Linked DNA regions of Homo sapiens. The protein of the gene in region 1 interacts with the protein of each later gene in a biochemical or structural test. Each region holds a gene or a part of one and is shown on either strand. Other genes may lie near its edges.

Evidence for each region.
Region 2: of the proteins of ARHGEF1 (region 1) and RAP1A, one has a biochemical effect on the other in vitro, tested with the Homo sapiens proteins (one study listed by BioGRID).
Region 3: the proteins of ARHGEF1 (region 1) and GNA12 form a complex in vitro, tested with the Homo sapiens proteins (one study listed by BioGRID).

Annotation. Positions count from the first base shown.
Region 1 is NC_000019.10:41,878,413-41,886,535, reverse strand, and holds the start of ARHGEF1 (rho guanine nucleotide exchange factor 1), read right to left. Parts: upstream 3,353-8,123; 5' UTR 3,247-3,352; exon of another isoform or gene 2,069-3,246; coding exon of another isoform or gene 2,043-2,068; intron 1-2,042. Other genes in the region: CD79A (B-cell antigen receptor complex-associated protein alpha chain isoform 1 precursor), read right to left, coding at 5,556-5,669, 5,798-5,866, 6,883-7,001, 7,247-7,546. UniProt on the Homo sapiens protein: Seems to play a role in the regulation of RhoA GTPase by guanine nucleotide-binding alpha-12 (GNA12) and alpha-13 (GNA13) subunits. Acts as a GTPase-activating protein (GAP) for GNA12 and GNA13, and as guanine nucleotide exchange factor (GEF) for RhoA GTPase.
Region 2 is NC_000001.11:111,699,789-111,706,788, reverse strand, and holds part of RAP1A (ras-related protein Rap-1A precursor), read right to left. Parts: intron 3,454-7,000; coding exon 3,313-3,453; intron 2,447-3,312; coding exon 2,303-2,446; intron 1-2,302. UniProt on the Homo sapiens protein: Counteracts the mitogenic function of Ras, at least partly because it can interact with Ras GAPs and RAF in a competitive manner. Together with ITGB1BP1, regulates KRIT1 localization to microtubules and membranes.
Region 3 is NC_000007.14:2,792,309-2,799,308, forward strand, and holds part of GNA12 (guanine nucleotide-binding protein subunit alpha-12), read right to left. Parts: intron 2,836-7,000; coding exon 2,620-2,835; intron 1-2,619. UniProt on the Homo sapiens protein: Guanine nucleotide-binding proteins (G proteins) are involved as modulators or transducers in various transmembrane signaling systems. Activates effector molecule RhoA by binding and activating RhoGEFs (ARHGEF12/LARG).

The DNA of each region.
Region 1 (8,123 bases):
GCCAAGGTGGGAAGATCGCTTGAGCTCAGGAGTTTGAGACCAGCCTGGGGAACACAGTGAGACCCTGTCTCACTATGAAACATGACCACGGACGTGGAGGGTGCATGCTCATCCCACTCAGAGGTAGAAACGCTCAACTGAGGCAGGGAAATTTTAAAAAGGCAAAGGAGGGGATACTCATTATCTTTGCAAGTGCTTGGTGCCAGGTCTGGAACTGTGCACTTGCCAAGTTCTTATCTCCTTATTCCTTATCACAATAATAATGAAATGACAGCTGACACAAAAGAGACACTTAGTATGTGCCAGGCATGGCATCGCTGGTTGACAGGTAATAACTCATTTAATCCTCTCGGTGACTCCAAGAGATCATTATTATTCTCACCTCCATTTAACAAAGAAGGAAACTGAGGCACAGCTCATAAGAGGCAGAACCAGGACTCAGACCTGGGCAGTTGGGCTACAGAGTTTACGCATTTAAAATAAACTGCATTTGGTGGACACAGTGGCTCACACCTGTAATCCCAGCACTTTGGGAGACCAAGGCAGGTGGATCACTTGAGCTCAGGAGTTCGAGACCAGCCTGGCTAACATGGTGAAACCCCCATCTCTACAAAAGATAGCCAGGTGTGGTGGTTCATGCCTGTAGTCATAGCTACTTGGGAGGCTAAGATGAGAGGATCGCCTGAGCCCAGGAGGCAGAGGTTGCAGTGAGCCAAAATTGTGCCACTGCCCTCCAGCCTGGGCGACAGAGTGAGACCTTGTCTTAAAATAAAATAGGCTAGGCACGGTGGCTCTCGCCTGTAATCCCAGCACTTTGGGAGACCAAGGCGGGCGGATCACGAAGTCAAGAGATCGACACCATCCTGGCCAACATAGTGAAACCCTGTCTCTACTAAAAATACCAAAATTAGCTGGGCGTGGTGGCACGAGCCTGTAGTCCCAGCTACTCGGGAGGCTGAGGCAGGAGAATCGCTTGAATCCGGGAGGCGGAGGTTGCAGTGAGCTGAGATCGCGCCACTGCACTCCAGCCTGGTAACAGAAGTGAGACTTCGTCTCAAAAATAAATAAATAAATAAATAAAACAAAATAAAACAGAGAGCATTGCTTCAGAGCATGGGGAGCCCCCACCCTACCCTTCAGAAACTAAAATCTGAACCAAAGCTCTGAGACACATCATGTCTTCTTATGGATGCCTGGAAAAGTCACGGGTATGTGGTCACTATGGCCTAGGCAGGAGTGCAAGTTGGATACGGCTGCTCCACAGAGGCTTGGGGGTTGGAGATGATGGAGGCGAGGAGTGTCGCCTGTTTAGGAGGAGGGGTTTGGGGGAGTCCCACAAAGGCTGGAGAATTATAGGTGAAGCTGTCAGAGAATAGATGGATCTATAGGCAACTGACAAGGCCTGGGGGGTCCAGCAGAGGGAACACTGCGTGCATGGGGCGCTGGGGGGTTAGGGCTGGTTTAGAAGGTCCATGGGTTGGGGGGCCACATGGGTGTTGAGTTCTATGGAGGTCTCAGGGTCTATAATGTGTTGAGCAGGTGACTCAGGGTCTCCAAGAACTTCTGGAGCCTTAAAGAACCTAAAAGAGTCGTTGGAATGTGTAACTCCCCAGATTCTATTTGACACACAGTGGGTCTAAAGGATCCAGGGATCATACAGGATCATGATTCTATAGGGACAGCTGCCAGTCTGTGGAACCTCTGGAGACTTAAAAGGGACTCAGAATTCCATAGGGGTGCGTGGTGGGTCCCGAGACCCATGGTCTATAGAGCCCCGGATTCTAGGGGATGCCACTGGTCTATGAGGACCCCACGTCTATAAGAAGCCAGTTCTCCATGGGGGGCTGGCAGGAACCTGGAGGGTCTGTAAGACTTTATACGGAATGAGGCGGGTCTACACGAGACCCAAATCTTACATGGACGTGGCGGGTCTTACGCGGGCCCTAAATCCTACGGGGGACGTGGCAGTGTGCACGGCCAGGGATGCCGGGGAGGACGTGCAGAGTCAGGGTCTGACACCCGCTGGGGACCGCGTCCCTCACCTGCTCCAGGTGGAAAGAGAAGCCATCGCCGCCACCGGAACCGAAGCCTCCGCGCTCGGGCTCCGCACTCTCCCCACCCCTGCCGCCGCGTCGCTCTAGCCGCCCTGAGTCCACCTTTGCGCCCAGCTCCACTCCTCCTGCCAGCCGCTCTAGCCCGGCTCCTGCCGGGCTCCGGCCCCGACGACTCTACTCCTCCCGCCGGCCGCTCTAGCGCTGTACTGCGCCACGCAGGCCAGATAGGGCCGCTCTGGCCTGTCTTGGAGGGCCAGCGTTTCCGTATCTCGACTGCCCCCGTCACTCCCCGGGCCCCGCCCCGCGCCCGGAGGTGCAGATGGGTCCAACTCCTCCCGAGTTCGATCGGAGATCTCCTAGTCACCCCAGCGCTGAGCACTCGGACGGCGGACTGGGGCTCCCCGTCCTATTAGTCTCCCCACTTAGGGGACCCGCTGAATTTCCAATCCTCGTACATCAATCCCCTCCGTCTCCCACCCCCAGCCCCTTCCTTTGGAACCGGAAAAGCAATAGTCTTGAGTTCCAGCACAACTTTCCCTCTGACATGCAGTGTAATCTGCAAAAAGTAATGACTTCTCTGTAGACCTCAGTCTTCCCATCCGTACAATGGGAGAAGGCCTCCAGCTCTCTCCCTACACCTGTCTCTCACGGTATAATTAATGACCTAGAAAAGAGCTTTCCGAAAACTCTTTCAAATGCACTCTGCAACTTTCAGCTTCACAGCGACCCTCGTCGTTGTTGTTATTGTTGTTTTTCATTTTTAGGTGGCCCTAAAGCATGCGGGGGTTGGAGGATGGCGCTTTGCGGAAAGCACGTGCGAGTTCAAATCCCAACTCCACACTTTCTCACGATGTGCGTTCCCTGGGACGAGTCGGTTTGGCTCCCCGGGCCTCGGTTTCCCCACCCGTACAATGGTAGTGATCGTCCGTTCTCCACTGAGCAGGTGGGAGGCCTTGGCCCCGGCCTCGCACCGTTCGTCCCCACCTATGGGGCACTCGTCAAGTGTGAGTTCTCCCCTCTTTGCTCCCTTTGACAGATGGGAAAACTGAGGCCCAAGGAGGGGCGGCCGCTGGTTCCGTGGGGTCCGAAGGGGGCCCCTCCGCTGCCGGCAGCGCCCCAGCCCCTCCCTCCTCCTCCCCACTTCCCCCAACAGCCGAGGGGAGGAGGCCGGGCGGGGCCGGGGACCGAGTACCTGGTGTCCGCGCGGAGGTGACCGGCGGGGCGCCCGAGGTCGGGCTCGGCGATCCCGGGCCCTGGGTCCCGGCTCCCGCTTCCTGGCTCTGGCGGGGCAGGAAGTCGGGGCGTTTTTCCGGAGGCCCCCGCCCCGCCGCCCCTCCCCGCTTCCTGCCCGCGCCCCGCGCCCGCCCGGCACCTCCGCTTCCTTCCCCTTCTCGCCGCTTGCCCGCCCCTCCTTTCCCCGCTGCGCCCGGGTCCCTGCGGGCACCGGCCCCCGCCCCGGCCGCGCCCGAGCTCTCCCCGGCTTTGTCCATCGGTCCGTCCGCCGGGCGCGGGCTCCGCGGGACTCGCATCTCCCGGCTGGGGTCACCTCCCCGGAGGTGCTGGGGGGCAAGCCCTGCTCCCCGTGCGCCCTAGACCGAGCCACGACCTCCCCGGCTTTCCGCGTCTGTGGTTCTCATGGTCTTGCGCCCTTCCTTCGCCTCTGTGGGTGTGCTCCCGCCTGCGTCTGCATCCCCTTCTCTGTCCCTCTGTCTTTCTCTACTGGGGTCTTTCCCTCCTTGGCCTCCACCTCTCCTCTCTGTCCCTCCATCACTTTCTCCCCGAAAGCCCTTCTCTACCCTCTCCAGCTCTCTCTGTATCTTTCTGCATCTCCGTCTCAGTCTCTGTCATTTCCCCAGCTGTTGCTGTGCCTGGGCCTCTTCGTGCCCATTTTCGGTTGCCCCTTCTCCCTTCTGTCTCTTCCTTTCCTTCTCGCTCTCTCTCTGTCCCTTTCTCTCCACGTCCCTGTCTCTCTCCCGGATTCCCAGGGTCTCATCATCTCTTCCTTCCCTTGCTCGTCCCCTTCATGATCCCTGGGTCTCAGCCTCTCTCCTCTCCCTTTCTCAGGAAATCCGTGTCTCTGTGCCTCTCTGTCATTGCCCCGGGATCTCCCTGCTATCCCCAGGTTAGGACCACAGACCCTCCAAAATGCCCCTTCTGTAAGTCAACGCATCGGGAAAAGGCTGCAGTCTGAATTCTGTACTAGCCCCAATCCACAAGATAGTCCCTGTGTTTCCAAGGCTTAAATACGCATAAAGTGGCTCATGCCTGTAATCCCAGCACTTTGGGAGGCCGAAGCATGGTGGATCACTTGAGGTCAGGAGTTCGAGACCAGCCCGGCCAACATGGCGAAACCCTGTCTCTACTAAAACAAAAATTAGCTGGGTGTGGTAGCACATGCCTGTCATCCCAGCTACTCGGGAGCCTGAGGTACAAGAATCGCTTGAGGTGGAGGTTGAAGTGGGCTGAGATTGCGCCACTGCACTCCAGCCTGGGCGACAGAGTCAGACTCTGCCTCAAAAAAAAAAAAAAAAAAAAAAAAAGCGGCCGGGCGTGGTGGCAGGCGCCTGTAATCCCAGCACTTTGGGAGGCCAAGGTAGGTGGATCACCTGAGGTCAGAGGTTCAAGACCAGTCTGGCCAACATGGTGAAACCCCGCCTCTACTAAAAATACAAAAATTAGCTGGGCATGGTGGCAGGCGCCTGTAATCCCAGCTACTTGGGAGGCTGAGGCAGGAGAATCGCTTGAACCCAGGAGGCAGAGGTTGCAGTGAGCACTCCAACCTGGGCAACAGAGTGAGACTCTGTCTCAAAAAAAAAAAAAAAAAAAAAAGTGTAAGTAATTTGGTAGCCACAGCCATCTTGATCTTGTCCCCTTCTTGCTTAAGGATATGACCCTAGGGTGAGGCCCTGCAAAGAGGGCCAAACCAGTCCTTCAGTTGGTCTGGGGACCTTCCCAAGAGACATCTTGTTCTCCCAGGAGGGCAGCCCAGACTGGCTACCTGGTCCCAGGTGTGGGGAGTGGGCAGGGAGTGGCTTGGGCTGGGACTCCTGGGTCTGAGGGACATGTGGGAGAGGCGGTTCCCGTAAGATCCACGACTCCTGCCAAGGTCTGCAGTTGGGAAGAATTTATTATCACTAAGTGGCCCTGACAGATCAGGGAGGAGGGGGTGACACTAACGAGGCTGCTACAATCAGCTCCCCTAGAGGCAGCGATTAAGGGCTCATTACCCGCTGGGGTGAGGGGAGCCTGGGAAAGGCAGCGGGGCGGGGGGATTAGGTTAGGAGGTGGGGCAGTTTAGAGGGAAGAAGAGTGGGACACCCCCAGGGGAGTCCAAGGAGGCCTGGCCTGGAGAAGAGTGAGGTTACCCTCCCACCCCCCACTGGGGGAATATGACTAAGGAAGCCCCCAGAAGGGCTGAAAGGAGAATGTCCCAGGGAAGTGAGCTGAGACACTGGAGCTGGGTGCACAGCAGGCGGGGGCAGCCTGGCAGGAGTAGGGGTGTCACGGCTTCTCCAGCTGGACATCTCCTATGTTGAGGCTGCCCACATCCTGGTAGGTGCCCTGGAGGCCCCGGGAGATGTCCTCATACATGGAGCAGTCGTCCAGGTTCAGGCCCTGGGATGGAAATGAGGCAGCGAACATCAGCACCCTGACACCTGGGGTCCCTGCCCCCAGCCACCCCCAGAGGGAACACCCCCACCCCTAACACAACTGCCCCTACCCCATCCCCACCCTTCACTCACTTCATAAAGGTTTTCATCTTCATATTCATCCCCGGCATCCAACCCGAGCTTCTCGTTCTGCCATCGTTTCTGTAGGGGTGGGTGGGGTGGGTGCCTCAGTGAGCAGGGGGAGGTGAATATCTTTCAGACCCTCCTGGATGCCAGGAAGTACTTTTCCAGAAAGGGTAAGAGATGTCCCCAAGGCCACATACTGGTTATGTAACAGTTCTCTCTGAGTCTACAACCAGTGTTCTCCTTCCTTCCTTCCTTCCTTCCTTCCTTCCTTCCTTCCTTCCTTCCTTCCTTCCCTTCCCTTCCTTCCCTCCCTCCCTCTCGCCCTCTCTCTCTCTCTCTCTCTCTCTCTCTCTTTCTCTCTCTCTCTCTTTCTTCTCCCTCAGTTGCCCAGGCTGAAGTGCTGTGGCAACATCATATTTCACTGCAGCCTTGAACTCCTGGGCTCAAGCAATCCTCCCACCTCAGCCTCCTGAGTAGCTGGGACTATAGGTGTGTGCCACCATGCCTGGCTAATTTTTTTTTAAGACTTTGTGTGTGTAGAGATAGGGTCTTGCTGTGTTGCCCAGGCTGGTCTCAAACTTGTGGCCTCAAGTGATCCTCTTGCCTCGGCCTCCCAAGCTAGCGTCTTCTTGAGTCTCCACTCCCTTACTATTCTCCATGAATAATAACAATAACAGTCACACTTTCTGTAGTGCCTAAGGAGAGGCTGGTACAGATCAGAGATTCTGGGAGGACCAGGCCCCACCTTCCCTGGTCTTGGCTACACCTGGAGGGTAACCACACTCCTGGGTGAGGGCAGGAGGGGAGTGAGGACACTCTTAGGGAGAAGAATGAGACTCTTCTTGGGGGGAGGTGGACGTGAGGACAGCCCAGAAGGGGAAACTAAATTGAAGACACCCCCTGGGCTCAGCGCCAGTTCAAGTCCCTTCTTTATATTCATTCATTTAACTCCCACAGCCCCTATATGGTGGGTGCTTTCATTCTCCCAAGTTTTGGATGGGGAACCTCAGGCTCTAGAGGGCTACCTGGGTATTGGGGGTCCCTCGGCCCAGGCCCTCGCCCGGCTGACTCAGAGGTCCGAGGGGGCTCACCCTGAACAGCAGCAGCGTCCCAGGCACCACCGCGCAGAACAGGAGGATGATCCCCTCGGCTGTGATGATTCGGTTCTTGGTGCCCTCCCCCATGTCCAGGAAGGGCCTGGGGGGCGGCTCTGCAAGGAGGTAGTATGGCTCAGAGCCCTGGCCCCTCTTGCCCTCCCTAGCCTCCTGGCCCCGCCCACCTCCTGCAAGGCCCCAGACCCCCCAGAGACCCCACTCTGCAGAGGAGAATGTCCGTCCCTCTGTCCAAGCCGGTTTGAAACCCACATTGAAGGTACTGGCTCTATCCCCACTTCAAAGATAAACCGAGTGTCCCCAGCGGGACAGTGGGAGTAGGGGCCAGGGCTGGGCCACTCACGGCGCACGCGGAGGTAGGTGCCGCAGGACTGCTGGTATGACTCGTTGCCCTCCTGGACCCGGCACACGTATATGCCCCCATGGCTCTTGTTCACATTCTGGATGATCAGCGTACCATTGGGGTCCTCGCCCGGGCCCAAGAACTCAGGGGGCCACGTGTAGTTGCCATGGAGGACGCGCCACCAGGTGACGTTGGCGTTGTTGCTGCTATTGTGCGGGCATTGGAAGTGGGCGTCTTCCCCCAGGCTCACCATCAATGATGCTGGGACCTTGTGCATCCACAGGGCCTGGCACCCAGGGCCTGTGGAGAGACAGGGTGGGTGGGTCAGGGACTGGGGATGGTGACACATTTCCCCAGCCCTGGCCCCTGCAGTTCCAGCACTCCTGGGAAGAGGGTGAGGACTCTCCTGGGTGGGGAGGGAGAGAGAGAGCCCCTGACAGGGGCTGATACATCCTGGGGAGAGGGGGGATGCGGGAAAGTGAAGAAGCCCCTGGGAAGGAGAGAGGACATACCTGGTTGGGGTGGGTGAGGATATCCTGGGAGAGGAGAATGAGACTCCCTGGGATGGTAAGACCCCTGGGAGGCCCTTCTCACCTCTGCAGCGCCATCTCTTGCCCCCCTCCCGCATACCCACTTTGTACTCTGGCCCTGTGAACTCTCTGGATTTTGGATGTTTGTTCCAGGCACTGGAGGACCGCTGTCCAGACAGCTCCTTCCAGAAGCAGTGCAGGCGTCCCCTCCTCCCGCAGCCTTCCCGGTCCATTTTTGCACCCCAGCCTCAGCCAGGCCCAGCACCTGGCGCTTTTTCTTGTGTAATCATTCACAGAACCCTAGAAGTAGGTTCTCTCCTTAGCCCCATTTTACAGGAGGGATGGCT
Region 2 (7,000 bases), on another chromosome or scaffold:
ACATTGCCTACCTCACAGCAGCAGATGGTTCAGTGATGAGGGCAAGTTCGAACTATAATATTTGGTTAGAAATGCTGAAAGGCCCCAGCCTAGGTTCTTCCTCATCTCTCTGAACTATAGAAAAATCTAAAGGGAACACAGAATAGAGTTTCTCAATCCCTCTCCCATTCCTAAATTGGGTTGTCTTGATTCCAATTACTATTCCAGCCTCAGCAAAGAACAATTAATTCTTGATTAAGACTACTGTGATTCTGGCATAGCCATATACTACTTTAAGAACGTTGCAAAGTGGTGTGAATAAGAGTTTTTGAAAAATTATATATATATATATATGAATGAATTAGGGGGCTCTTTAGCCAAGCAGTATGTCCTGGTGTCTGTTTTCAAATTTAAGGCCAAGAGGTGAATTTTTGAAAGTATCTCTCTATACTTCAGGCATTCAAAACTCACAAAAAAATTTACAAGGCAAAAGTTGTGTGAGGAACTATTAACTACCAAAGAAATCCTGTAGCTGGATTATTGGGTTATAAAGAGAAAAATATTAAAAGAAACTCAAATTATCTGCTCCATTCTCCCCACTCTCAAGAACTGAGCATAAAGTTTGTATGTTTTCCAAAAAGTAAAGATTCTTGAGATGGCTAATGCATTTCATTTTATGGTTTTTCTATGTTTGTTTTTATAAACCCTCGTTTATAAACTCTCTGCTTTAACAAGACTGCTATGAAAAAGTATCTCTGCTGCATTGGAAACTAATCCAGAGGAAGTTTAATAGCATGTAGGTTCTCACAAACATGTAGTGTACTGTCCTCTGGCTCCCAAAGGGAGAAGTCCTATGCACTGGACTCAGGCCCAACCCAGCCCCACCGGAGCCTGGAGTCTGATGAACTTGGTTGGTGGGTCCCATGGAGGTAAGGACAAGGACAGCAAGGAACCACATCCCGTAAGGCCAATTATCTTGTAGATAGTGACCTCATGTCACTGTTCTGCTAGCCAAACATATTCACAATTTCTAACAAATTCTTTATCAAAATCACTTTTTTTCTTTAATTATTGCTGAAAGACTTGTTCCCCCAGTAGGATGCAAACTTCTTCAGGGCAGGAATAGTGTCTGTCTGAGTGACTGTTACCTGAGGGCCTGACACAGTGCCAGACACACAATAGTCAATAAATATTTGCTGAATAAATACAATTTATAAATTTCTTGTTTTTATGTACTTGTTAAAAATGGTTTCACATAAAAAAACAAGCTTTGGCATTCTTGATTATCTGTAAAATACAGAAGTTGAAGCAAGCTTAATTTTTTTTTACCTGCCAGGTGTTTAAAGTAACCTGGTCATTTTTAAAAGTCAAATAGTCTATAAGCATAATATTAGTCAAGAAAAAGTGGCCAGCAGAACCACAGGCCAGAGAGAATAGCAAAAACAGAGGACTCATAACTTAACCCACTCTCACTCTCACCTATGTAGTTAAGTGATCTGAATTCTGACTGATTACCTGTAATGCTACAAATGGCAAAAGCAACGGCAGGAAAGAAGCCCACTCTGTTGTTTTTATTTTTTTAAAAGGCTTATGTTAAGGTTAACAAAAGCAAGGGAACTATTTAAGGTTGACTGGTGGGGACAGTTGGAAATTGCTCTAAATTTTTAGGGGCCCAGTAAACTAGTAAACTGTTGGCCCTTTACACCCAGGCATGCAGCTTATTTGCTAAGTATTCTTGTCCACAGCTGTTTTCAAGATAGTGGAGTGCTTAACCCAGTGACCCCACCCCCATGCCCCACACAAAAGCCTTGTGCATCAGCTGTATCAGGCCTAAAGGACTGAGTGAATTCCAGGTACATGTCCATACCCACACAGATTACCCACTTATGAGTCATGCACCAAAGGTGAGGTAAGACTCAGAACACAATTCTGTGATATCCATAAAAACATATTATTTTCCAACTTGACTTTACAACCTATTTATATACATTTGGGTAAATAATTATTACAATATAAGGTGATGTAACAATTTTTACACACCACTTTATCGCATATCACTTAGAGGCTTAGCAGGATTTTACACACATTCTTCAATTTTAGCTTCCTCTTTTACAATAAGGTAAATTTAAGTATCCTCATACAGCCATCAAAGTGACCTTATGCAAGCTAAAAAATATAGTTTCCAGGAATTACTTAGTGTTTCCTATAAAATTATGGAATCAAGATTGCTTAAAAGATAAAAATTTTTTCTTAAAAGTCTGGCTGTTAACTTAAAGCAAACTAAAAAGGCACTTGTTTGTGCTGCCCAGCAGTTGTAGGTTACCTCATTAACATTGATCTTTGACTTTGCAGAAGATTCTAAAAAGGCACAGTTACACCACTGTCTTGCTAAATTCTGGCCCTGCTCTTTGCCAACTACTCGCTCATCTTCCAGGTCACATTTATTGCCAACCAAAATCATTGGAACCTGTGGGAAGAAAAAAACGTAAAATGAACAATAACATACTCATTACTTAGCCTTTTAAAAAAATAAATAAGCAATTATCTGCCACCAACTGAAATGCATTAGTTGGGACCGCAAGCTTCATCAAATACTAACGAAAAGTATATGTTGAGGGGAAGAGGCGAAGGAAGAAGGAAGAGACAAAAAAAAAAAAAAAATGGAAGAGATCCTACTACATAGATATGCCAAATTATTTTAAGAATATAATCCTGGCCAGGCACAATGGTTCATGCCTGTAATCCCAGGGAGGCTGAGGTAGGAGGACTGCTTGAGCTCAGGAGCCTGAGACAAGCCTGGGTAACATAGTGAGACCTGGTCTCTACTAAAAAATTCAAAAACAATCAGCCAGGCAGGGTGGCACACACCTGTAGTCCCAACTACTCAGGGGGTTGAGGTGGGAAGATCACTTGAGCCCGGGAGGTAGACTGTGATGTGTGAATTATACCAATGGAATTTTAGAAATAAAAACACACCACTATGGATCTTAATAATGTTCTTTGAACACTGTTTCTGACACAACCATCACCTTTCAAAGCTCAACTCAGGTCCCACTTCTATGAAGTATTCTTTGGCTCCTCTTTTTCCTCTACTGCACTTTTTAACCTATAGCACAATGAGTACTTTATCACATATGTCCTCATTTTCTAAACATCTCACCACATAATTTTGAGGTTAATTTTGAAAGTTAAATTTTTTTCTTTTGGTCACAGGGGCTCTTTCAGGCATGTGGTAGATAGCTTCCAAATCCTCTACTAATAGAGAAAACAGGCACTTTTTTATTTGGCCACAGAGAGATGGCATAACATCTTACAGAGAGAAAAAATACTTACATCTTCCGTGTCCTTAACCCGTAAAATCTGTTCCCTCAGGTCCTGTAAGTCGTTAAACGTGGACTGAGCTGTAATAGAATATACTAGTGCAAAACCTTGGCCGTTCTTCATATACAAATCCCTCATTGCTGTAAATTGCTCCTATGATTTAAAAAATATGCAATTATAAATATATAAATTTCTTGAATGTATACTGCAACAATTTAAAACAGCATAATTACAAGTGAGTAACATTTTTTATTACTTGCTATCCTGACAGAAAACAAGACATAACACAAGTTTCTAGCAACTGAGGTGACTAGAAACAATGACAGTAAACTAGAATTAAAAAGGAATTCTTAACCACTTTAATTTGCTTTTGTGTGATTTAGAGCTGTATATAATTTTTTAGAAACAGATCTTTTGATCCTAAATAATTTTATTTGCAAATTTATGACACAACTACTGCCCAAGTGCTAACAATCTGAGGTATAAGCCCAATACTAAACTATGACTTCATCATCCAGAATCAATATCTCTACTGGCAGATTTTATCATCTTTCTTTTTCTATTCCCATGGCATAGCAATATTTTTATCATCTTGACAGTCAATAAACTCTTTATAAGAGCTTGTTAATGGTCAGGGGCAATGACTCACACCTGTAATACCAACACTTTGGAAGGCCAAGGCAGGTGTATCACCCCAGGTCAGGAGTTCAAGACTAGCCTGGCCAACACAGTGAAACCCTGCCTCTACTAAAAATACAACATTAGCCGGGCGTAGTGGTGCACACCTGTAGTCCCAGCTACTTGGTGGAAGAAGAATCACTTGAACCCGGGAGGTGGAGGTTGCAGTGAGCCAACATCGCACCACTGCACTCAAGCCTGGGCAACAAGAGTGAAACTCTGTCTCGGAAAAAAAAAAAAAAGAGCTTGTTCATGTATTTTCATTTTCCCCCTCATTCCAAACCTTTAGAAAAGATGTGAGAATAGTGCAATGACTATCTATCCCCTTTAGTTAAATTTACTAATGGTTAACATTTAGTTACTGAGCTTTAGTCATGCCAAATTAAAATTACTTAATTTTAAACTTCCTTTTATTTGGTGACAATCATTACTTTATGTTGTAACTATGGAGGTTAATATAAGACAAAATCTTCTTTTAGAAAAGTTTTGGTATTATATATATATATTACTTAAAAAGCACATATGGCAGAATATTAAAAATGTGTATGTCTTGGGTCTTTATATTAAATAACTATACAGTTTGGATCTTTTTACCTCTGGATGCATTAAACGTAAAAGATAAATCCACAAAGTTTCTTAAGCTTGTTGTGCCTTGGCTTCCTTGTTCCCCATGACCACTACCTCTATTTTGTCTACTACATCTAAAATAGTTCTGGTTGTTCTACCCTGGCTGATGTACTCTTTCTTGTATTCCAGGGAGTTAGCTATGCTACCACTCAGCCATTTCCCCAGCTTCAAATTCGTCTAAGGTGTGCCACAGGAACATGGCTGAGCTTCCTATACTGCTGCCAGTGTATTTTCTGGGAAAGATGTAAAAACTGGAAGTTTCCTGGATTTTTCATTGATAAAGTTTGCATATTCCAGAATTGCACCACTATGGTAACCAATTAAATTCTGCCACTGTCCAAATGTTTATATAATAAATGAGTTTACTTACAAATGTTAAGTGCTACAAATACTAGCAACACTATTTCTATGATGTTCTCTAGAGATCATGGTCTCTGCTTCTTATTAAATCAAAAGAATAAACATACAGGCAACCTGAGTTCTGAAAATCCAGTTTAAGAAAAGTCCTTACAGAACTGCTGTGGTTGGTGTTCCCTCCTATTGAGAATGCCAACCTCCTTCTTAAGGACATTCTACAAGTTTCATCCATTCACAACAAATATCCACTGACATAGTTGTAGCCCTATGGATATGTTAGTGATCATGAGAGGCAAAAATTTCTGCCCTGGAGGAGTATACATGGAGACAGACAAAAATCAAGTATGCAAGATGGTAATAAATGTTATAGAGAAAAGTAAAGGTTGGGAGTTTATTTTGAGGGTAGGAATATAAAGTTATATTTTAAAAGACTATGCTCAGGGAAGGCCTCACGGGTAACATTTGAGCAACCATGTGAGGGAGGTGAGGGAATAAGCTCTATGGTTATGTGGAGGAAGACTACCCCAAGCACAGGAAAGAGCAAATGCAAAGGCCCCAAAGGGAAACATGTCTAAAGTGTATGAGAAGCTGTAAGGAGGCTGGATTCATTGAAACATTGTTACCTAGTGGGTGAGTATAGCAGTGGGGGCCAGAGAAGGGACAAAGAGAGAGGATTCTCATTTGGACCTTTCAGGGAAATGTAATAAAGACCTGGGCTTTTACTCTGAGTTTAATGCATAATTTAAGCTGAGGAAAACATGATCTGACTTACATTTAAATGGAATTATGATGGTTACTGTGTGGAGAACAATCTGAAGGGGGTGAAGAAGAGAAGCAGGGAGATCAGTTTTGAGGTTATTGAAATAATCCAGCTGAGAGATGACAACTGTTTAGACCAAGATAGTGTCATTAGATTCTAGTGGTGGTAGCTGAGTTCTGGGTAAGTTTTTAAGGTAAAGCCAGTAGGGTTTTCTGAGAGTTTGGATGTACACATAATATAACAAAAAATACAGTCAAGGACGACTCCATGGTTTCAGGCATAACCAACTAAAAAGGTACTATTTACTGAGATGGGAAAGACTGGAAAGACCCAGGTCAGGGAAAGGTTATCAGGAGTTCAGTTTGGACATGTTATATTTGAGATGCTTATAAGACATACAAAAAGAGATATTGAAGAGGCAGTTAGATATAAGAGCTCGAAGTTCAGAAAAGAAATGAGAGATAGGGATATTGTTTGGATGTTTGTCACCTCCAAACCTTATGCTGAAATGTAATCCCCAGTGTTGGAGGTGAGGCCTGTGGGAGGTATTTGGGTCATGGAGGTGGATCCCTCATGAATAGCTTGGTGCTATCCTCACAATTATGAGTTCTCGTGAGATCTGGTTGTTTAAAAGTGTGTGGCATCTCCCGCTCACTCTTTGCTCTTGCCATGTAAAACACCTACTCCTCTTTGCCTTTCACTATGATTGTAAGCTTCCTGAGGTGTTCACCAGAAGCAGATGCTGGAGCTATGCTTGTATAGCCTGCAGAACCATGAGCCAATTAAACCTCTTTTCTTCATAAATTATCCAGCCTCAGGTATTTCTTTACAATAATGCAAACGGCCTAATACAGACAGGGTTACAAAGTTAGTATTTATCAGCATACAGATTGTATTTAAAACCAAGCAACTACAAGATCTCCAAAGCAGTGTTGTTAGGAAAGAGAAGTGCAAGTATTGAACCCTGAGGTCCTCCAACATTAAGAGGTAGGGGAGATAAAGAGGAATTAGGAAAGGAGACTTAGGAGTAACCAATGAGACAGAGGAAATCAGGCAAGTATTGTTTCTTGGAAGCCAAATGAATAAAGGTTTTACATTAGAAAGCAATGATAAACTGAGTCAAAGGCTGCTGAAAAGTCAAGGGAGTTGAGGATATATTCAAGAGAATTATAAATGATGGACCGTGGACCTGAAGCTATATGCAGAGGGGGTTGAAGATATAAGGGATAATAAAAAGATGTTAGGATAAATGGACTACAGGTTGTAACGAAGTTGAAG
Region 3 (7,000 bases), on another chromosome or scaffold:
CCAAGATGATGTGGCCTCAGGCACAGCATAACTGGTACGGGCTTACTTCCATGTCGTGACAATACAAGGGCTTGACTTCCTAAATTGGGAGGTCCCTTCCAGCACTGACACCCTGCACTGACGGAACAGGGCAAAGACAGAAGCCTGTCAAAGCTGCTGCACCATGCCGAATCCCAGACAGAAGCCTCACTCAGTACGATCAGCCCCAGACACTTCTGCTTCCTTCTTTGGAAAATCCTCAATTTCCATCCAAGTTCTAAATGAATGAGAATCTTCTTTCCCAGACTCTGTGAGTGTATGGGGAAAAGGTGTAAACCTCAATTTCACATTGAGATACTGACATGTATTTCCCAATTGTTTCTTCCAGCCCTGCTCTTTAGGAGATTAAAATTTCCTTTCTACCGCAACCACATCTTCCACTCTCTTTTGATTCTTTTACCTTAACTGTTAAAGTTAACTTGAGAAGGAATGTGCAGATGGAAAGGGGCTAGTAAAAACGTCATCCTTAAGATGCCCTGGAGGACATTAACATTTACAGGCAAAAGCCTGAGGAGAAACAGGCTATTTGCAGGGTCTCAATGTATCTCCCTAAGATATGTGTTAACAACACAGAGAAAATACTGACTTCCCAGTGGAGAAAGGTGGCCAACAGTGCCTCAACCAAGCAACCCAGGCTTGCATCACCAGCCACTGGACAATATCACGCACTTCCTGATCAGATGATCTGAGCAGGGCTCAACGGCACGCCTGCGGTTTCTGTGCCAAAAAAATGCATCCCCTCATCCTGATGACGAGAAAATACCAGACAAACCCAAACAGGAAGATTCTACACAATACCTGGCCAGTGCTCTGGACATGTCAAGGTCATGAAAGGCAAGGAAAGATCAAGGAGCTATCATGGACTGCAAGAGACCAAGGGGACACAATGACTAAACACAATGGGGGATTCCAGGCCAGGATCCAGCAGACAGGAGCGCGAGAGGAAGCAGCGGACAGGACGCGAGAGGAAGCAGCGGACAGGACGCGAGAGGAAGCAGCGGACAGGAGCGCAAGAGGAAAGGTGGGTCACATTCAGACAAGGTCTACAGTTAATTGATGCTTTCATACCGATGTCAACTTCTTAGTTTTAATAGTTGTATAGTGGTTAAGATGTTAACATTAGGGGGACTTGGGAGAAGAATATAAGGAAATTGAACTGAGGGGACTATTAGCAGACTATATAGCACCTCTCAGATGATTGAGAAAAATAAAAATTACTCTGCAGGAAAAGGATGGGTAAAAGATATGAATAGGGTGGGGCATGGTGGCTCACACCTGAAATCCCAGCACTTTGGGAGGCCGAGGCGGGTGGATCACCTGAGGCCAGGAGTTCGAGACCAGCCTGGCCAACATGGTAAAACTCCATCTCCACTAAAAAATATAAAAATTAGCTGGTGTGGTGGTGGGTGCCTACAGTCTCTGCTACTCGGGAGGCTGAGGTGGGAGAATCACTTGAATCCAGAGGTGGAGGTTGCAGTGAGCTGAGATGGCGCCACTGCACTCCAGGCTGGGCAACAGCGCGAGACTCCATCTCAAAAAAAAAAAAAAAAAGGAAAAAAAAAGACGTTTCCAATAGCAAAATATGAAAAACAGTTCAAAAGTACCTCAATGAAAGAAGGAATGGATCCTAGTATCTTTCCACAGTGGAGCATCAGACAGCAGTGAAAAGGGAAGAACCGCTGCTATGTGCCTCGCCTGATGAAATTCCAACATGTGGAGTGAAAAAGGCAAGTCACAGAAGCATATATACTATACACTAAGAAATGACTTATATGAAGGTTAAGAATCAGTAAAACTCAAGACTGTCGTGTTTACAAATAATAAATGGGTATTATGGCAAAATCATAAGAACGGCAAAGGATTCATGACTTCAACTTGACTCTGGGTGCTAAGGGGGCAAACGGCTGTGAGAGTGAGAGGCATTTCTGGATACCCTGGGTGTGTATTAATATCAGCTGTGCACATTTATGCTGGTTATCAGAAAAATTGTACATTTTACTTTATATACGGTTAATTTTGAAAGGTAGAAAAAAACAAAAAGCAAACAGGCAAAACCCCCCAGATTTTCTGGTTATAGATTCAGACCCCAAATGAATCTAAATAACTGGGCTTTGTGAAGTTTTTAGACCTTAAAACGAAAGGAACAAATCTGAAGGGAACAACTGGGAGGAGTTGGATTTGCTTCCGAGGCGCTGATCTGAAGGCGTTCGTGAGTTGCCCATACCCACAGGTCCAAAGTGGGAAGCTGTTGTGGGGGGTGTTATTTCCTACTATGAACAAGATCTCTAAAAAAAACTAAATTTCTCGGGTTGTGCCAATGCTGATGATTCTAAGAACCCTCCGTATTCCCAGAAGAAAGCTATTGATCTTACCTGAGTGGCTCTTGCTCCTTCCCCTCTTGAGCCTTTTATATAGCATCTGCCTCCATCCCGTGTTTTGGTTGTTGATCATTACAACTTACGGTGATTTAGAGCTTGCTTGGACTGTTACACAGTTTTTAAGGAAATTCAACTAACGGTCCAAAATAGTCATGTAAAAAACACACTATCAGGTGCCCAGCAAGAAGGCCTACTCACTCACCAGCTGAAACTCGCTTCTCCGGCTGAAAGCCTCCCTGATGCCAGAATCCCTCCAGAGTGCGCTCAGGGCCGGGACGTACAGCTGGAAGGTGGCCGGCTCCACAGGCAGCCCCGCCTTGTTCTCGAAGGCCATCAGGAACATCCCATGCTTCTCATTTTCAGAATACTGCCAAGGAATGCCAAGCTTATCTCGTGCATCAACAAGAACCCTTGAGCCCTAGAAAATAAAAGAAAGAAGAGAGGATTTAATTGCATTCCAAAGACTAAACCACGCTAGAGAAGCTCAAAATGGGCATCCATTGTCATAACGCAGAAAACTCACAAGCTCTGAGCTGTGCAGCCTGAGTCTGTCTCTTGGTTTGTTTGTTGTGATGTGGAAAGTCTTAACTCTCAGCAGTATAACCTCACCAAGACAGACGCACATGGCCGAGAGCAGTGGCTCACACTGTGAGCCTCCCCTTTGGGAGGCCAAAGAGGGAGGACTGCTGGAACACAGGAGTCTGAGACCGGCCTGGGCAACAGAGCAAGACCCTGCTTCTACAAAAAATTAAATCAAATTAAAAACAGCTGGGCTTGGTGGTGGCACACCTGTAGTCTCAGCTGAGCGGGGAGGATTGCTTGAGCCCAGGAGGTCAAGGCTACGGTTATCTATGATTGCTGCACTATATTCTAGGCTGGGCAACAGAGCAAGACCCTGTTTCAAAAAAAAAAAAAGAAAAGAAAAAAGAAAAAAAAGAAAACAGATGTACATAAGCACCACAGAAAGAAGTCTGCTTTCTGCTATCATTCATTTGCAAAGCTACTGGAAAAAAGACAACTGGGCGGGGAGGAGGTGGCAACAATTTCAGAAAATTTCACTGGAAAATGAAGTGTATCAGTAAAAAAACAACTTTTTTTTTTTTTTTTTTCTTAGATGGAGTTTCACTCTTTTTGCCCTGGCCTGGAGTGCAATGGAGTGATCTCGGCTCACTGCAACCTCCGCCTCCCAGGTTCAAGCAATTCTCCTGCCTCAGCCTCCTAAGTAGCTAGGATTACAGGTACCTGCCACCAGGCCCGGCTAATTTTTTATTTTTAGCTGAGATTACAGACCACCACGGACTGCTAATTTTTGTATTTTTAGTAGAGAGGGGGGTTCCACCATGTTGTCCAGCCTGGTCTCGAACTCCTGACCTCAGCTGATCCGCCCGCCTCAGCCTCCCCGCCAAAAAAACAATGTTTTAACAACAACTATAGTAGCCTCCACCCCTTATCCGTGGCATAAGTTCCAAGACCCTCAGTGGATGTCTGAACGGTACCAAGCCCTACCTGTATTGTTTTTAAAGTTTAATTTAATTTATGAATTAGGCACAGTAAGAGATTAATAATAGCTAATAATAAAATACAACAATTATAACAATATACTGTCATGAAAGTTAAGTAAATATGGTCTCTCCTTCTGTCTCTCAAATGTGGTATCACCGTCCGCGCCTATTTTCCGTTGGCGGCTGGCTGTGGATAACGGGAGATGACTGTACTGCCAAGAGTACTACCAGCGCTACTATTGTCATCATCACTGAAATCTGGCAGCTCCTCTATTCCAAAAGATACAACTGCTTCTTCCAGCTTAAAACGGGTGGGAAAACATACAAATCCAGGCAGTCAGCAGTCATGAGACAGGAAAAGACTAAAATACGACAAGCCAAGTAGCCCGCCCACCAAAACGGGAGCCAGGGGATCATGTTCTAGATTTAACGTCACCATCGTTTGTGATGAGAAACTACTTTTCATTCTTTTGCTTGTTTCCTCATTGTTAAAGATAAAGTTAATGTTGTTCTGCCCCTTCTTACCTCATCAACAGGGTCAAAGGGATGAAGAAATAACTAACATAGTATTAGGGAATGCAGCCAGCCTTTGGAAAATATTCTCTCAGCAAAAACAGCACCCCCTGAGCAGTTAGGAGGTCTGTTCCACCATCCTTAGACTAATGTTTCGAAATCAGCAAGGCAGTGTTTATGAGAACTTCTGTGTTCTTCTGAGGGGCACACTGCATACTCTCTGGTATGGTCTACACTGGGGGTATACAGAGTGGTCAAGGGCCCTGAGAAGGCTATCAAGTACACATCTGTCCATCTGGAAAAGCCTTCTCATCTCAGAGCAATCTGAGGGACTCAGGCCAGCTGAGAGCAGCATCCCATCCTCCAGGACAGAGAAAACCAGGGTCACCTGCTCACTAGGCACTTATCTATGTTCCTTTTTTGGAGACTGGGTCTTGCTCTGTCACCCAGGCTGGAGTGCAGTGGCATGAACATGGCTCACTGCAATCTCGACCTTCTGGGCTCAAGTGATCCTTGCCCGTAGCCTCTCAAGGAGCTGGGACCACAGGCATGCCTCGTTACGCCCGGCTAATTTTAAGATTTTCGTAGAGTCAGGGTCTCACTATATTGCCCAGGCTAGTCTCAAACTCCTGAGCTCAACTGATCCTCTGGCCTTAGCCTTCCAAAGCACTAGGAATTACAGGTGTGAGCCACTGCATCCGGCCTTTTTTTTTTTTTCCTTTTTAAATAACAGTTTTACTGTGCTATAATCCATGTACCATATAACTCATCAATTTGAAGTGTACAACTTAATGATTTTTAGTTGGCACTTATCCTAAAAATCTTCATTTCTGACACCCAGGGCAGAGCAGATGAATCCATTCTGCCTCCTTCATCTCTCTCCTGCAGCATCAATTTGGTGCCTATAACTTCCACTTCTGCCTTGAACCACTGAGTCAGACGTAATGATGACCAAAGAGTAGTTGAAAGTCTCCTCCAGACCCAGCTGACCAGGACGGTCTGGTTAGAGATGCTCCCTGATTTTCCCCTCAGGACCTTGTCTGTCTGCCGTTGGAGACCATGCCTAGTTCTACCAATCCACAAACATTTGTTCAGTGTGTTTGTTTGTGGGGGAAACAAACTTTAAGAAGCAGTATCTGACCCCCAGAAACTCAGAGTCTGGCTAGAAAGACAAATGTATGGATAAAAAAAATACTTACCACCCACTCATGATTTTAAAAAACCTTTGCAAACTAGGAACAGAGAAATGCTTCAACTTGATAAAGAACACTGACAAAAAAACATACAGCTAACCTCATAATTAATGTGAAAGACTGAATGCTTTCCCTCCAACACTAGGAAAAGACAAAGATGCCTACTTCTGCTACTGCTATTCAACATGGTTCTGGAAGTTCTAGCCAGTGCGACAAGGTAGGAAAATGAAATAAAAGATCACACAGCTCAGGAAAAGCAGGGGGGAAAACAAATAGATTAGACACACAAAAAAAGAAAACACACAACTAAACCCATTTGCAGATAAAAAGATGATCTATGTTGAAAATCCCAAAGTAATCTACCAAAAAAACTCCTAGAATAAACAAATGAATCCAGAATAGTTGCAGGATATAATGTCAACACACGAAATTCAATTGTCTTTCTATATACTAGCAATGAACATGTGGAAAGTGAAATGAAAGATGTACTACTACTAACTATCACTAAAAAAACGAAACAGGTATAAATCTAACAAAATATGTGTAGGACTTATGTGCTGAAAACTGCAAAATGTTGAGGAAAGAAATTTTCAAAATCTAATAGATATACCACGGTCACGAATTAGAAGATTCAACACGGTACCAATATCCTTAAATTAATAAACAGGTTTAGCACAATTTCCATAAAATCCCAGCAGGATCTTTTGTAGATATAAATATGATTATTTGAAAATTTATATGAAAAAGCATTAAATTAGCTAAAGCAACTTTGAAAAAGAAAAGTGGGAACAATCAGTCTATCTGATTTTAAGACTTATTATATAGCTATGATAATCAAGACTGTGTGGTATTGGTGAGGTGACAGACCCACAGATCAATGGAACATAACAGAGAACCCAGGGATAGCCCCTGATACAGCTAGGTAATTTTTGTAAAAGTGCAAAAGCAATTAAAAAGAGGAAGCCTGGTCTTTTCAACAAACGCTGTTGGAGGAAGTGGACTTCCACAGGTAAAGAAAATTGGGGGGAGCGGGGGAGGGGGTGGGGAAGAACCTTGACCTAAACCTCACAGCTTATACAAAATCAAATCAAAATGTAGAACTATATATAACATAGGAGAATATCTTCAGGATGTAGGGTGTGCTCAAAGTTCTTAGATGTGACTCCAAATACATGATTCACACGAGAAAAATTATCAATAAATTGAACTTGATGAAAACGAAAATATTTTGCTCCGCCAAAGACCCTCTTAAGAGGCTGAAAAGAAGCTATGAACTGGGAGAAAATATTTGCCAACCACACATCTGCCATATCTGACAAAGGACTCATTTAGAATATACAAGGACATTCAAAACTCAACAGTTAGGCCAGGCACA